Regions from separate parts of the Homo sapiens genome. Here region 1 is linked to region 2. A link means that fine-mapping ties the variant in region 2 to the expression of a gene that starts in the linked region. Tissue or cell type: whole blood. Region 2 holds a variant in brackets; the other region holds the start of a gene. All regions are shown on one strand. Distances are between the middles of the regions.

Evidence for each region. PIP is the estimated chance that this variant, and not a neighbour inherited with it, causes the effect.
Region 1: it holds the start of ARB2A, and the variant in region 2 is fine-mapped to the expression of ARB2A in whole blood (TOPMed, PIP 0.96).

What each region holds. Positions count from the first base shown.
Region 1 is chr5:94,108,098-94,116,285 of GRCh38, forward strand. It overlaps ARB2A (ARB2 cotranscriptional regulator A), which reads right to left and starts at 3,566. Exons shown (of 11, transcript NM_032042.6): 1 at 3,414-3,566. LOC105379087 (a long non-coding RNA gene) reads left to right here and starts at 3,605. Exons shown (of 7, transcript XR_001742441.2): 1 at 3,605-3,642; 2 at 4,228-4,307; 3 at 5,458-5,568; 4 at 6,650-6,704.
Region 2 is chr5:93,603,780-93,611,967 of GRCh38, forward strand. No RefSeq gene overlaps it. Among named protein-coding and RNA genes, the nearest start is that of MIR2277, 13 kb to the right of the region's middle. RefSeq lists a silencer at 4,044-4,338. The variant C/T (reference allele first, on the strand shown) is at 4,002.

The sequences.
Region 1 (8,188 bases), 500 kb after region 2:
TCATTTTTTGGCTCTTCTGGTACCTGCTCTTCTCAGCAAGAACCAGAACACGTCTTTTCTGTTTCTTCATCCTGTTTGGCTCTTCTGGTCCCCGCTCTTCTCAGCTACAAAACAAACGACATCTACTACACAGGCACAGTCAGCCATTTAATATACTCCTTTTCTTCTAATTAAAAAGAAAAAAAAATCAAAACAGGCCAGGATAGTCTTTGGCTTTCTGAACTGTTTTCATGGCAATTTGAACCAAAAGGTTCATTTATTATTATAGAAGATGGTGTATTTTTTTTTTTAATTTCTAAGTTTGGAGTTACTACAGATACCTGGTCAACAGACAAGTTGAGAGTTTTTACAATTACAGGATTAAAGAGTTAAAATGCAATAAAAGTCATGGTGGCTGCCTTCTTAACCCTTAAAAACTCCACCAAATAAATCTCCAAAAATTTTTATTAAATCATATCTTAAAATAAATTCATAGAACTCCAAAAATATATACCAGTGGTCAAAAAGGACATGAAAAGATGCTTAACATCACCAATCATTAGGGAAGTGCAAATTAAAACCACAGAGAGATACTACTTTACACCCATCAGGATCGCTATTATCAAAAAAACAAAAAATGTGTTTGGCAAGGATGTGGAGAAATGGTGAGGATGTGGCAAAATGTTGGTGAGGATGTGGAGAAATTGGACTCCTTTGCATTGCTGGTGGGAATGTAAAATGAGGTGGCTGCTGTGGAAAAGAGTGTGTCAATTCCTCGAAAAAAAGTATACATATAGATATATATACATATAAAATTTCCATGTGATCTAGCAATTTCCCTTCTGGAGAGATATCGAAAAGAAATGAAAGCAGAGAGTTGAACAGATATTTGCACTCTCATGTTCATAGCAGCATTATTCACAATAACCAAAGGATGGAAACAACCCAAGCATCCATGGATGAATGAATGGATAAACAAAATGTATTAACAGCATATGCACACAATGGATAATTGTATTTCACCTTAAAAAGAACATTCTGACACACGCTACAACATGGACGAACGTTGGAGACATTATACTAAGTGAAATAAGCCAGTCACAAAAGGTCAAATAGTGCATGATTCCACTTATATGAGGTACCTAGAGTAGTCAAATTCATAGAGGCAGAAAGTAAATTGGCAGTTGTCAGGGGCTGAAGGTAACAGAAAACGAGGTGTGAGTGTTTAATAGGTATGAAGTTTCAGTTGGGGATGATGAAAAACTTCTGAGTGAAAAATAAAGTTGGCATAGTACAGGGACATACTCCATACTTAGTTACCAATGACTACTGTGCAAACCCAATCTGACTCTAAAAACAGAGACAGTACAAGTTGTATACAACTGAGTAAATAGTGCTTACTTTTGTTAGAGCTCAATGAAGAGCACAGAAACATCTCTACATATCTACAGACACCAGATTCTCCTCAGAGGTTTGTCTGGGAAAGCTGAAAAAAATAAACTGTAAATAAATAAAATCCCTCATGCCACCAAATCAAGGAATAAATATTCATTCTTGAGATTGTTAAGTACTGCTACCTCCATGCCTACATCCTTGCTATTCCAAATATATCAAACACGCTCCTGTCTCAGTGCCTTTGTACTAGGCCAACTCATTCCTCCATACTTGCGGAGCTCACTCCCTCATTTCATTCAGATCTCCACTCAAGTGTTCCCTTATCAGAGAGGGTGAGCTTACCACCCTATCTAAAATAGCATCCTCTATCATTCTCTCTCCCCTTAATTTATTTTTCTCTATACCTCTTTTTTTTTTTTTTTTTTTTTCTGGAGACGGAGTCTCGATCTGTCACCCAGGCTGGAGTGCAGTGGCATGATGTCGGCTCACTGCAACCTCCGCCTTCCCGGTTCAAGCAATTCTCCTGCCTCAGCCTCCAGAGTAGCTGGGAATACAGGCGCACGCCACCACACCCAGCTAATTTTTTTGTATTTTAGTAGAGACGGGGTTCACCGTGTTGCCCAGGCTGGTCTCAAACTCCAGGGATCAGGCAATCCGTCCGCCTCGGCCTCCCAAAATGCTAGGATTACAGGCGTGAGCCACCGCGCCCTGCCTTTCTCTATACCTCTTAATCACTACTTGTTATATATTTACTTGTTAATTATACGTCTCCATCCACTAGAATGTAAGTTCCAGGAGCAAAAGGACTTTCTATTTTGTTTACTGCTGTCTTCCCATCACCTGAACACTATCCGGCACACTGAAGGTTGCCAGTAAATACTTGCTAAATGGATAAACAAGTGGATGCTCATGGTTTCATAGATAATATTTCCCTCTTGGCCTTGGTACTATTTATTCTACCATATGGAGCAGCCATAGCCTGAAAGCATCCAGAGCATCCTTAACTTTTCAGCGTAGGATTCACTGGTTAAGTGGAAGTAAGGCCTAGTTGAAAATTCTGAAAGAAGCCTGGTACCAGCACTGTCACTGAGGCCTTAACGAAGCAGATCCAAAAATACTCTCTTACTCAGTTTCTACATTCGCTAAATGTATACAGTGTAACCGTCCCTCGCATTGTAGGATAAAGAATACACCTTATCAATGAGATATTTGTTATGCAGTATATGGCATGCGTTAATGCAAACGATGTCATGTACTACATTAAAAAATCGCACTGATATTTTGATAAATATACAATGCACTTGTAGATAAAAACCAGAGAATTTTTCCCTCTACAGCTTTTTTGAGGATTTGGGAGAAATGGACAAATGCAACAACATTGCATGTCATTAAATACAGTATATCCAAACACAACGAGTTTCTTGGCCCAACAGATATAGACCCTGGAGCACTATAAGAATATGTTAAACACCTGGATGAGGGAAAGAGAAGACTGCTTCCAAAACATACTTACTTTATTTCAAAGTCAAAAGTATTCAACACTTAATTCATACTGCATCCCAGAGAAACGTCCCACCCGCGCCCATGCATGTTACAAGTTTTGAGAGCATTTTATAACTGCACTTTAATCCCTCTGCAGTGAATGACTTCTGGTAAAGCGCTGGCAGTTAATAATACTTTTTGTAGAAAAAAAAATTAATACAACAACCACAATACCTCCACTCGCAAGAAAGCGGAGGAGGGCCCATTACTCTGTCTCCAGGGACTCCCAGAATCCCGTACGCCCCGACATAAGGAAAGTCATCCAGGGAACACACACGTCGCTCCCGCCTAGAGAGTGGAAATGGAACATGGGACCTGCCCATCAGCGGAGGCCCAGACACAAGTCAGAGGTGTCCGCAGGGAATGCAGCGTGGTTCCAGACAGCCTCGGTCCCCAGGGCCAGCGACCACCGCCTGAGACCGACCCAGGCCAGCCCCCTCCTGATTTCGACCCGGGCCTGCCCCCGGAGCTCACATCCCCGCAAACGGCAGTCCTACCTGAGCTCTGCCCCCAGCCACAGGGCTGAGGGGGCAGGCGGGAGGAGGCGTGGCCTTCCAGTTCGCCAGTCGAACTCCCTCGTGCGGTTGTTATGACTTTCCCTCTCGGGATCCGCGCCCCGACCAAGTTCGAGTTGCACTTCCGGGGTCTTCAGGAGATTGATACGTCATTACGCACTTGACGGCAGCGGCGGCGACAACCCGGAAACGGGCGGGGCGCGGGCCCTGGGTAGGTTCCTGTGGTATTAGGTGGACTGGAGAAAGAGGCCCGCGTGAATTAAGTGTAGTTCTCTTATGCACTGGCGGACTCTGGTCGCCCTTCCTTGTGAAGGCTGCCTGGGTAGCCGTAGAGGACGAGGCCACTCTAAAGCCTCGTTTTCCCAGCGGAATTTTAACTATTCTAAGGATGTCCTTACAGCCAGTTCCCCACTCCGCTACTCAGAGTGTGTCAGACTTTACCCTGTCCATTCAACTCCAGAAAAACCGGGAGGTCTAGATTCGGAAGATTAAATTTACCTTTGAATTAGGACATGTAAAATAGGAAGTTAATATTAGCATCCTAATGACAAAAGTTTTCTCGTTATCATACTTGACTCAAATGGGAATCTTACGGATATTAATGTTTTTTCCAGAAACAGGTTTGAAAGGTATTTCAAGGATAAATCTGGGGAAAGGGATGGAAGCAACTGATTTTTAATTTTTAGATAGTACTCTCAGAGCATTTATTTAGTCCAAAACTGTTAATTTAATGAATTAGGCTAAACTAGACGCTGGGGTAACAAAGCTGAGTTAGATACCCTCTCCTCTGAGGCAGCTAAAGAGAAGGAAAGTCTGGTGGCTGACAAGTAAACCAACAGTTATGTTCTTCAGAGAGGAGATCTCAGACTCTCTAAGGTATACTTCACTTCCACACTGTTTGTACTTTGCAAATGTACCCTGCCCCCTAAAATGTAAACTCACTGATGGTAGTGACATAATCTTGTCTTTTTAATGTATCCTCAACCATACAACAGTGCCTGTCCACAAAGTAGACAATAAATACTTATTGAATGACTGAATGATCACAGTGGTAAATAATAGATTGGGGAAATCTAGAAAAGTGTATAGGACAAGAAGAAAGTGGTGTAAGTAAGTGGCGGGAGATAAGGAGCAGTAAAAGGTGAGAGAATCCACTGGAGTTAGCCAGAACTGAGTACCTGAATGAATCTCGGGCATTGCAAGACTGTTAGGGCTTCATTTCCGGAAAGAACTCAAATGGTTTGTAGAGTGACACTTTATACTGAAGAGGAAGGCAACAGCCAGATTCTGAAAAGCTTTCTATGTCATGCTGAGTAATTTGATTTTCTGCTGCAGACAATTGGGGAAGCTGAAGGATTGTTGAACAGAGGAGGGAAACATTTTTATTTTGGTGGACTTTTGCAACAGTGACAGATTATATTAAAAAGATAAGGCTCCCAAAAATGTATAATCCCAGTTTAACCATGAGAAAAACATCAGACAAAATACCTGACCAGTACTACTCCAAACAGTTAAAGTCATGAAAAACAAGGAAAGTCTGAGAAACTGTCTGAGCCAAGAGGAGCCTAAAGAGACCAACTTTAATGTTGGATCCTGAAATAGAAATAGAACGTAAGTGAGAAAACTAGTGAAAATTGAATAAAAAAGTAACATTCCATTAAGAGAATATACCAATGTTTACATAAAATATGGAGATTGGTCAAAAGATGAGTGACATGACCTTTCAATATTTCCAGGATAGAGGCCCACTCAAGGGTTAGGGGAATGTACTTTGTTCAGTAGTAAACTATTGAACAAACATATGGGTGCTTCAGCCTGCAATTCCAGCTGGACTTACATGGGAATGAATGAGCCTTCAGATTGTTCCTGTCATTGAGTCAGCTGGGGTCCAAAATTTCATAAAGCAGAGACGAGCCATCCCCACTGTGCCCAGTTCTGAATTCCTGACCCACAGAAACAATTAGAGATAATGAAAATGATTCTTGTTACTTTAAGCCAGTAAATTTTGGAGTGATTTGTTTTTCAGCAAAAGAAACTAATAGCTGTATGACAACAGCCAAAGAGTAAATATCCTTTCAAGTCCAATCCTGCCTAAGATGTCAAAATCAAGAATGAAGAGGTTATGTGCTGAAACAGAGTGAGTCCTTTTCTCTCCTTACTCTACCCTAAATGGTAAACTCCTGCCTCAGCTGACCACAAAAATATCTTCTGCAAATCTGTGAGGAGAAAGGAGGGAAAGCAACAAAAATTGTATGTGGGCTTAGATGTTTTGTTAGAATTACAACAGCCCATGTGTAGCTTAGCAGAAACCATTACAATGATGACTACACAATATAGTACAAAAATGTCCCCTCATTTTAACCATAGTCATCTAAACTGTACAAGTTAGTTTATAATTTTAATTTATACATCTCTAGGGAAGCCAGAAACTTCAGTTTCTCTCCCCACCTCTCTTCTCTTGCACTTCAAAATCCTACTAAGATAAGGAAAAAGGAAAGGAGATTTGTTCCCTCCTGGCTAACAGCTGGTCCATCTTTGATCACTAGGATGATCAAAGAAATGTCCCTATACCATATTTTGCGTATCCTCCTCCTATTCCAGACCACTTCCTTGGGCATCTATCTTTTTATCAATCTACTCCCACCCTTCACATTAAATGATTTCAGTGACATACAGCAGACAGACACCTCCAAAAATACTAACAAGGCTACATGTTGTTCATTTAAGTTAAAAATAAAATTTAAACCTACTTATCATGACTAGGACTCAGTGCCAACATTTTGGCAGCTCAAGAAAATCCATTAAGGAAAATATTCTTAATTAGATGCTAAGGGCAAAGCTCTGTCCAAACTAACCAACTGTATTAGAATGAGGTCTGGATTCTGACTTAAATTTGGAGAATCAAGTAACATTCCTGCCCTTGCTCAAGCCCAAGCAGGAATGTGCTGTGGTTTGAATGTGTTCTCTAAAAATTCATGCATTGGAAACATAATTGCCATTGTAATAATATTAAGAAGTGAAGCTTTAAAGAGGTGATTTAGGTGATAGGGACTGTGCCCTCATAAAAGGATGAATGCCATTATTGTGGGAGTGGGTTAGTTATCATGGGAGTGAGCTCCTGATAAAAGGATAAATTTGGTCCCCATTTTCTCTCTGTCTTGTGCACTCTCACTACTCTGTCTCACCCTCTCTCCCCCTGTGATGCTTTCTGCCACAAGATGACCTTCACAAGATGCAGCCTCTGGATCTTGGACTTCCCCAGCCTCCAGAACTGTAAGCCAAATGAATCTCTTTGTTTATAAATTACCCAGTGTGTGGTATTCTTACAGCAGCAGAAAATGGACTAAGACAGTATGTGTGAAGTGTGGATAGTAATTACAACAAGTTCTGCCTTCTAGATTCAGTTTATATTTAAAGCCCAAAAAGTAGGATCATATAACCAAATAATTTCTAATGACCCCTCCAACAAAATGATTATTACTTGAAATCAACCCCCTATCACTTGTACTTTCCATCTAGATGCTGGGGACACAAAACTGAGTTAGACCCAAGAACACCCTTTTCATTATGCCTGGAATTTTTTTAAAATGAGAAAAGATAACATATCAGTGTTCAAAACATACTTTAAGAGAATTTCGAACAAAAAAACATAAAATAGCCTCTAGTTTGTGATGGAGACAATTTGTAGGTTGATATATTTACCTAGAGTTAGACAACCTGTGAGGTTTGAGGGCACAGTCTCTAAGGTGTCCCTGATTTCTGACACCAACTGCAAGTTTGGAGGGTTCCCAGAAACACCCTCAGGTTTGAAATTTTGCTAGAAGGTCTCACAGAACTCACTGAAAGCTGTTATCTTTACAGTTACCATTTATTACAAGGAAAGAATACAGACTAACATCAGCCAAGGGAAGAAACACGTAAGGCAGAGTCCAAAAGGGTACCAAACACAGCGCTTTTGCTATACTCTTCCATTATTTGCTGTACTTTCCCAGTGGAGTCAAGACATGTTACCCTCCCAAAATCCATCCATGACAATATGCAATATAGAATTGCCAGTAACCCTTTTCCTGTTTGCCCTAAGAATACTCACGAGTGGCACTTGCAGCTGCAGCATTTACCTTGAGATTACTTTGCTGATATTGTTTGATGTGTCCCCCCCCCAAATCTCATGTTGAATTCCCATGTGTTGTGGGAAGGACCCATGGGAGGTAATTGAATCATGGGGGCAGGTCTTTCCCTGCTGTTCTTGTAATAGTGAATAAGTCTCACAAGATCAGATAGTTTTAAAATGGAAGTTTCCCTGCACAAGTTCTCTTCTCTTGTCTGCTGCCATGTGAGATGTACCTTTCAACTTCTGCCATGATTGTGAGGCCTCCCCAGCCATGTGGAATTGTAAGCCCATTAAACCTCTTTCTTTTGTAAATTGCCCAGTCTTGAGTATGTTGGATCTGTTTGGAGGGCTCTGAAGAAGACAGGAAAATGTGGGAAAGTTTGGAACTCCCTAGAGACTTGTTGAATGGCTTTGACCAAAATGCTGATAATGATATAAACAATGAAACCCAGGCTGAGGTGATCTCAGATGGAGATGAGGAACTTGTTGGGAACTGGAGCAAAGGTGACTCTTGTTATGTTTTAGCAAAGAAACTGGTAGCGTTTTGCCCCTGCCCTAGAGATTTGTCGAACTTTGAATTTGAGAGACATGATTTAGGGTATCTGGCAGAAGAAATTTCTAAGCAGCAAAGCATTCAAGAGGTGAC
Region 2 (8,188 bases):
ACGCACACACACACACACCACACACACATTTACACACACACTCCCACCCACTGAGCCTCTGAGCGTGGCAGAGGATAAGAGAAGAGAAAAAAAAAAGGCGAGGAACTGGTGAGGCGGAATGGAAAGGAGGAGGGAAGTCAGCCCAGTGGTTACACCCCTGTGCAGAGGCGCGCCCTCCACTGGCCCCCTTGCCCCACTTTGTGCCTTTGGTTTGAAACACTGGAGGTGGCCCAGGGCCGTTTTCCTCAAAGGACTGAGAATCTTGATTTGCCAAGTGCTTGGGGCCTCCGCCCAAGGTGTTTGGGGGCTGCGTGGTGAGCCGAGGCAAAGCCAGGGTACCCCGATCGTCTTCCGGGCGCATCCACCATGCGGCACCGCCCCAGCCACGGCGGCCGCGCGTGGAGACCCGGGGGCTTAACAAAGGGCTCCGCGGGGGCACGGGGGGGCGCGGCCACGTGACAGGCCCGAGCGCGACGTCGCTGTCCAGCCGCGGGGAGGGGCGGCCAGCCCGGGGGGCCGTGGGGCTTCTTGACATAGAACGTCCGGGCCTCGGGCTGGCCGCGCCGGGCCGCGCTCCGCCGGGATGAGAAGTACTTGTCTGGCTCCGCGCTGGAGAAGCCGCACCTCTCATCTCTCCGGCTCTTACTTGAAAAAGCACTTGGAAGAAACTGTGTGTGCGCTGGGAGGGCCGCGGGGTGGGCCGGGGCCGGCTGCGAGGCTGAGGGGGGCCGGCTGGTGGGTGGATGGGGAGGAGGTTGAAGAAACAGCCCCTTTCTGAGTGACAGGACCCCTTTTCAAAGGGCAAACAGAAAAAAAAAAGAAGAAGAAGAAGAAGAAGCTCCTAATATGAATAGGAGAATTTTCAATGTTTCGCAGTTACTCCACCTCCCCCCTTTTAAAGAGGGATATTTTTTCCTTTCCTTTTTTCCTATTTTTCTTTCTTTCCTTTCTGTCCTTACCCTCCCTTCCTTTCCTTCCTTCCCTCCCTCCCTCCCTCCCTCCGTTCCTTCCTTCCTTCCTTCTTTCCTTCCTTCCTTCCCTTTTCTTTCTTTCTCTCATTAGATTGGAATTGCGTGCACAAACGTGTTTTTATGTGTTTTCAGGAGAAAGAATGATTCATTAACTTTAAAAAATCTTCATGGGTTTGTCAGAATTATTGAAACATGTTATGGTGTTTTCGAGGACCCACTGACCAGAGTGGAAAGGCAACAGACGAGTCACGCTTTCAGACAGGGGGTTTTAAAGATGCTGGGTTTGTAGGGGCGAAAAAAGGGAATATCTTACGAAGTTCTCCCTCATTCCAATAACAAAACCTGTCACATCTTCACTTCTTACTAGAAAAGATAGTGTCCTCATTTCCTCATGTGAACAGCTCTAAAGTGATTACTGAATGTCTCTGTGAGAAATCAGGATGGGAGAGGAAAGCTCATCACATTCAGAGATTTTTTTTTAAGCCTGCCTTCATGTAATTTAACCTTAGAAACACTTTTATTATCCTCATTCTCAACCCCAGCTTTTTTTTTTTTAATTGGAGGGCCATGCCATATAGAGGAGAAAACCTTCTTTTAAAAAAGATTTAAACCCACAGTACCACTTGTTTGTTGTTGTTGTTGTTATCATGATTATGATGGTTATTATGTCGTCCCCTCCTTTTTGCACTTGATCTGATGAGAGAACTTTTTTTAAGAGTGTGAAATGAAGGACACAAAGACATATATCAATGAAAAGAAGAAAGTGGCCCTTTTAATGAGAACTAAAGAAAACCCAAATGTAGATGAAGTGTACCGTAAAAGCTGCTTCAAAGTCCATCTTAATTCCCTTGGGCTCAGTCATCACGAACGCGTGATAATTGGGAGTTCTGCACGGAGGTAAGGCCGCCATAGGGTGGGGAGTCCCGCAGATGCACCTCCCTGCCCTGTAATCCCAAATACATTTCAACCAAGAACTTGGAGATATTACAGAACCCAGATTTGGCTACTCCACCTTCAAACGCTACCTGCCCATTAAAGACATTTTGTTTTCTTCCAGAGCAACTGTGCTCACTAGGGGAGCATCATCCTCTGTCCCACCCCACCTCACCCCCCAGCAGGCTGATATAGGCTGGACAATATTGTAAGGTTTTGATCATTATTTTGTGATCAACTCTGTTTAATTTTCTATTTATTTTCGGACCTGAGCCTTTCTGGATCACAAAAGTCCCCACAAGTAACACAGCAATAAATCTGAACAAAAATAAGACAGATTTCCTTATCGATGTGTAATAAAGTTAAAGGACATTGTTTTGTCAGACAAGCGCTAAGTAGAAAATAAATCTCAGGGTCTGGGGAAACAAAACGGAGCGCTGCTGGCATGTGTGTAAATTTACTTTTAAAAGCAATAAATCAATGTTAAATTAAACAGCTGGGTACCCTGTCTAGGAGAAGGTTCCGTGTTTAAGAAGACCTTGATGGGAGAAATGTACTATTTAACAAGACACACACACACACACACACACACACACACACACACAAAGTTAAATTTTTATTGGCATCCGGAGGCAAGACTGCCCTGGGAACTTTTCTTCTGAACTTCAGAGAGGGAGAGGGAAATAAGAGAGAGCATGAATTGTGTCTACTGTCCATCCTCAGATCTTTACACATATTTTCAGGCATAAGGAGAAAAGGAGGTTTTGTAGAAATGTATTAGATGTGTTCTAAATTGTGGGTTAAACTATGAAGTCTCTCTTTATTGGCTTAGGTTTGTTGGGTGGGTTGTGATTTTTCTGAGATTTTTTTTTCCTGTAAGTTCTATGACCTGTGAGTGTGTTAAGCATACTCTTATCTCATGCTTCCTTTATTCTTAATGTGGTTGTTTTGCACAGCAAATAGCACAGTAGAAAAATCAAGAGGACTGTTATTTCATATCTATTGTGCTTGTGTTCATTAAGTAGCAAACCTGAGATTGGAGTAGCATTTGATATTCAACAGGAATATTTTAATATTTCATTTTCTAATTTTTTTGTTTTTGTTTTTGTTGTTATTTTACAAAACTTCACTTCACTGGGAAAAAAATTGTGTGTGGGACATGGAGATGAGGAGAGAACAATAGAAAAGCCTAGCTCTGGCTCTGTATTCTAAGAACAATGTGAATCAATGAGCTACTATAGAGGCAATATTCAATAGCAGGAAATTAAGAGTAGTTTAAGACTAGCATGTATATACACTGGATTATTTTCCAGCCTTAAAATGAAATTCCAGAAAGACTCTTTAGAAAGCACACATATTATTGAGATGAACTCTCTCAGTCTTTTGAATTCAGATGGACTGGTTTAAAAGAAAAATATGCGGTACCTGCCTCTACAGAAACCAGCAGATTATTCTTTACTTTCTTCACATTGAAATCCCAGAAGCTTTATTTTGTAGTTACATTGTTAGCCCAGTTCCAAAGAATATTCATATAATTAGGTAACATTATTCAAACTTTAAAATTATTTTTAAAAAGTGTTTCAACCCCACCCCCACCCCCTTCAAGCTACACACTAACAGGGTAGTTTTCTAGCTTTCTAGCTACCTTTGACTTTTCTTCAGCCAAAGAAAATATCAAAGACCCAGTTGCCTGGAGAAGAATAAAGTTACAGCATTTATATTTAGGAGGCAGCATTCCATTTCCATGACCATCAGTGGCTTGTTAAGTAAATATGTGTCTTATGCCACTCGGAGAGAGCTCAGATCGCCTGTCAGGAGGCGTCTGGGCAGCCTTGTAAACTCAGAGTGACTTCTCATATCGTGCTATGTTTTCCCAGCGATGCGCTTTCCTCTGCGCTGAAGCCCTGGGAATCATTTCAGCCCAAGGTGAGCCTTTCAGGCACTGCTCTTTGTCCCCATTTGGATAAGAAGGTGCAAAACTAGTTAGACACTAGGCTGATTTTGGGGAGGTGGTAGGAGGGGATGGAGAAGCGGCCTGTTCTAATTAAAGACAATAAGCAATCCTGCGAGGAGCTGTCCTTTAGCCTTGGCTGGAGG[C/T]AGAAACGGTCTGTCTCACCTCAGTTGTTAGGTTTATTTGAGCTGGTCGGTGAGGCGAAGAGCAGAAACTTGCAGGTAGCTCTGGGCTCAGGTGAGACTGGGTGGATGGTTAAATCACAGCAAGTGATCTCGAAGTCCCCCTTTACCTCCCCATCCCCTGTCCTTCTGTGCTCTGTGCTTGACTCAGGCATACTTTGATTCTAACTTTGCTTGCTAGATGGCGCTCGGTGTCTCAGGACTTTCTGTTTCAGAATTAAAGCGGCTTTTTAGCACCGTTGTTCTGAACTATTTGTGGGCATTTGATCAGTACAGTGCTGGTAATGTTATTATTGCCCTTGTTTTCGTCACACTTTTTCTCTTTTTGATTAAGGTATCGTCCAGGTGGGAGCTGCCCATCTTAATCCATATAATAATGAAATTCAGGGAAACTCTGCACCTAAATTTAGGGCACATGTGTGGTTCAATTACCTGTTCTGGTGCACTTAAAAAGGCACCTTAGTAACTTTCCTCCAAGAATGTGATTGAGGTTTTCAAGAGGACAACTCAGCAGGTCCAGATGGTGATTTACAATCGTCGAGGTTTCCCACTAGAGTCCACCACCCTCTCCCACCACTACTCCCCATTCTCACTCGAAGATGAATCAGGCTGATGTGGGGAACTTATTACTTTCATTTGTCATTATGAGATAGCATTAATTGATTGAAAAAGTATTATGATTTCTTTATAGCCCAAGTACTAAAAATTTATGTCTACAAAGAGATATATTTTAATATTAGTAATGAAAGTCACTACACAGCTTGTTTCACAAGAAGAATGATTTGTGGATTCTAATGTATATTTATTTCAATCACTAAATGATTCTTCTCAGATATTCAAAACACTTTTGGAGGGATTCCTTTGTGTTGAAGCACGAAGAGAGAAAATCAGTAGTTCTAAATTTCTGGTGGAAAAAATTAAGATAAGCCAAAAAGACCTGAATATTGTTTTGTCGAATGAAGATGTCATTTTCACAGCACCCACTGCTCTCATACCATTGTCTGTTTTTTAAAGAAAGGATTGCTGGTGAGGAAGGCAACGGTTGCAAATTAAAAATATCTCTTTATAACTTTAAACACTTTGACATGGGAGAGTTTAACTTGTTACTTGCTTTTAGGATTTGGAAACTAATTTGTATAGAAATGTTCTACCTTTGGGGGAAATTAACAACACACAGAGCTCGGTGGTTTGGAAACCTTTTGTCAAACCTTGGCTGCTTTGGTGAAGAACCCCGCAAAGACTCTCTCTAGGTGTTAGGCTGAAACTAGCAGGCGCTGAAAACCTAAAGCAGAAAATTTACAACTTGATCAGCCCCAGCCACACACCAAAAAACCTGCTACTGGTGCAAACATATGTTACAGATTAAGTTAAGCAAATGGCTCTCATTTTTTCAGGGTTGAAAGTTGATCATGAAAATTCAAATTTGAGTGCATTGTGCTTCTAATAGATCACTAGATCCTCAGATGCTTACAAATCCTCCCCAACCATTTACTCAAGAAATTTCATATATTTTATCACCTTCTTGAGATCCTAGCTTAGAATCTCATGCAAATTGACTCTAGTCGGGTATTATTTTCCAGGAACACATGTAGTTTTAAAAGTTGGCTAAGTTGAAAACTGGCTGTATTCTTCCTTCTAATGTTAAACTGCTAAATAGCTGAAGTGTAACTCAGTTGTTCTAATGCTTTCTCTGTTTCCTCGTATACCTACTAACTTTTAAAAGCAGAAATTAAACTGCAGAATTTATTTTAAAGTTTCATTTGCTGGAGAAGTAAGTGATTTTTTTCACAGCATGAGGCAAAATAAAGGAGTGTTACCAAAGCCTTTAATTATGTCAGGAAAGACTGAAATCATGGTATTTCTTTTAATGGGGATAACTATCTTTTGCAACCTCTCTGTGGTCATCCAGCCACCTCCCAATTAAATTATTTGAAGACCAGCGTGGCTACTAAAATGCCTGGTAAAGAAGTTTAGAATTAACTCCCCACTCTCCAAGGTAACTCCCTTGCAAGTTGCAGAGGATGGAGCCAGGCATCCGACACCTGGGGTCCCTTCTTCCGTAATCGCGGGAGTTTGAAATCATCCCCCTTTACCTCTCCACATTCGAATGATCATCCTGCAGATTTTAACCGATATTGTCATGTTGAAGTTTGGTGGTTATTGTTTACATCTCTCCTTTCCCCAAGGGGTCTTGGTAAACGTTTAAGAGATTATTGATTTCCAAGAAACCAAATAAAGAAGGCTGTTCTTTTATAACATATGAAATACACACTTTTCTTTAACTAAATAGGCAGTGTATACTTGACATTGACAAATGGGCAAGAGACAAGGAAACTTATTTTAAAAGACTTTGAAGGGGAAAAAAATGGATACAACAGCAGCAATCCTATGGAATAGTAGGGTTTTAATTGAAACAAACGCTGGATAATAAGGAAAAAAATAGTAATCTATGCTGTAAAATGGTTTAGAGTTTTCACCGAACACACACAGATGGCGAACAAACATCACTGAAGATGCTCCTCTCAGGGGGACCTGATCAGTATCCTCAATGTTCTGATTTATTATAAAGAAAATGAGTTTCCCATGCTTCTTTTCTTCACAGTTTTCTCTGGCAAAAGTGGTTCTGAAATTTCTACTCAGGTCTGGGAGTTTCTGACGTACTTACAATAATCCAGAAAAGTCATTCTGAAACTGGATTAGGAGCATACTTTTTTAAAAAAAGTAAGAAATTCTTGATTAATGAAATGCAGATCTTAACTACCCCTTTCCTCCAAGTCATAAAGGAAATCCCTTGTGAAAGAAAGCGATTCCCAAAACCCAGACTGAGAGAGTAAACCTTAGGCACCCAGAAGTTCAATAAGCGCTGTCCCTTCCACCCCAAATCTCCACAACTCCCCTAGCCCCGACAGAGGAAAACCTCACGTCCTTCTCTGCACCTGATTCCCTTTGCTTGCTCCTGAACTCCGGAAGGCTAGAACGAATTTATCCAAAGATGGAAGAAAGCTCAGCACCTGGAAGCTCCCCCAAAGGGTACTGGCCAAAGATATGCAAACATTATGTAGATATTTCAGTTGCGGGTTTAGATAGTGGGAGATGGATCCTAGTCTAGAATATTCGAGTCTTCAAGTCACTATTATTCAACAGGTCTTCGCTATGCTGCACACTTCAGATGCCAAACTGCATTAGCTAACGTGAGTTGTCCCCCGTTTTCGTAGGAGGGTCGTGTTGCTAGTTTAGTTTCCGGCATGGCCGAGTTTCTCTAGTAGCATGGATTTACCTTAGTATTTGGGCAAAATGACTCTTGAGATGGAAAAAATGACCAAACTACGGGAAAAAAATAATCTTTGAGGAGAATTCAGCAGTGACTTTGCAGACTAAGAAAAGACAAAAAGTTTGTGCAAGCAGTGCTATGAGAAAGCAGTGTGTTGATGATGGCTGTTTCGAGAAAACAAACTAAATTGTTAACCCGTGAAGGAGTTAATAAAATATTTGTATGTCTTATGGGACATAAAAATAAAGTGTTTTGAAGCTAAACTTTTGCTTTAGTTTACTGAAAATTTTCCTTGCAATACTATGGCAAATAGATAATAATTTATCCTGAAATGTATTGTAGTTCATGTTACTATACAGAAGCAGTTTTCAAATAAATTTATTGAGGGCATTTTATAGGCAAGAAACCCATTAACTTAAGATATTAGTGTTCTCTCCCTTTTCACTTATTCCTGACTCTTTCTAGCAAAGTTTGGATCAAGTTGGTTTGAAATTATTTTAGTACAATTGATATTTAATAGAAATTTGGTTTTGACCGTTTCACCTACTCTAAACCTAGTATTTTCGTCCCCAACAACGGTTCAAAAGAGTGGGTGACCAGAATGGGGTCCTGGTGGGAGGGAAGAGATTTCACTCAAAACCCAGCAAGTGAGAAGAGTTTCAATACAGCAAGGTGCAATTTGAAATTTACAAAAAACTAATCTTGTCTTAGGAGTGGCAACTTAAGTGTTGCTAGGGAGACCACGCAATGAAAAAGATACCACAGGGAAGTGATCTTCCTTTATTGTACTTTGCTTAACGCGACGGCAAAAAGAAGAGAGCCAAACAGGGAGAGGTGCCGAAAAGCACAGCTTGGACTTAAGGTCTGCAAGCAGGAGAAG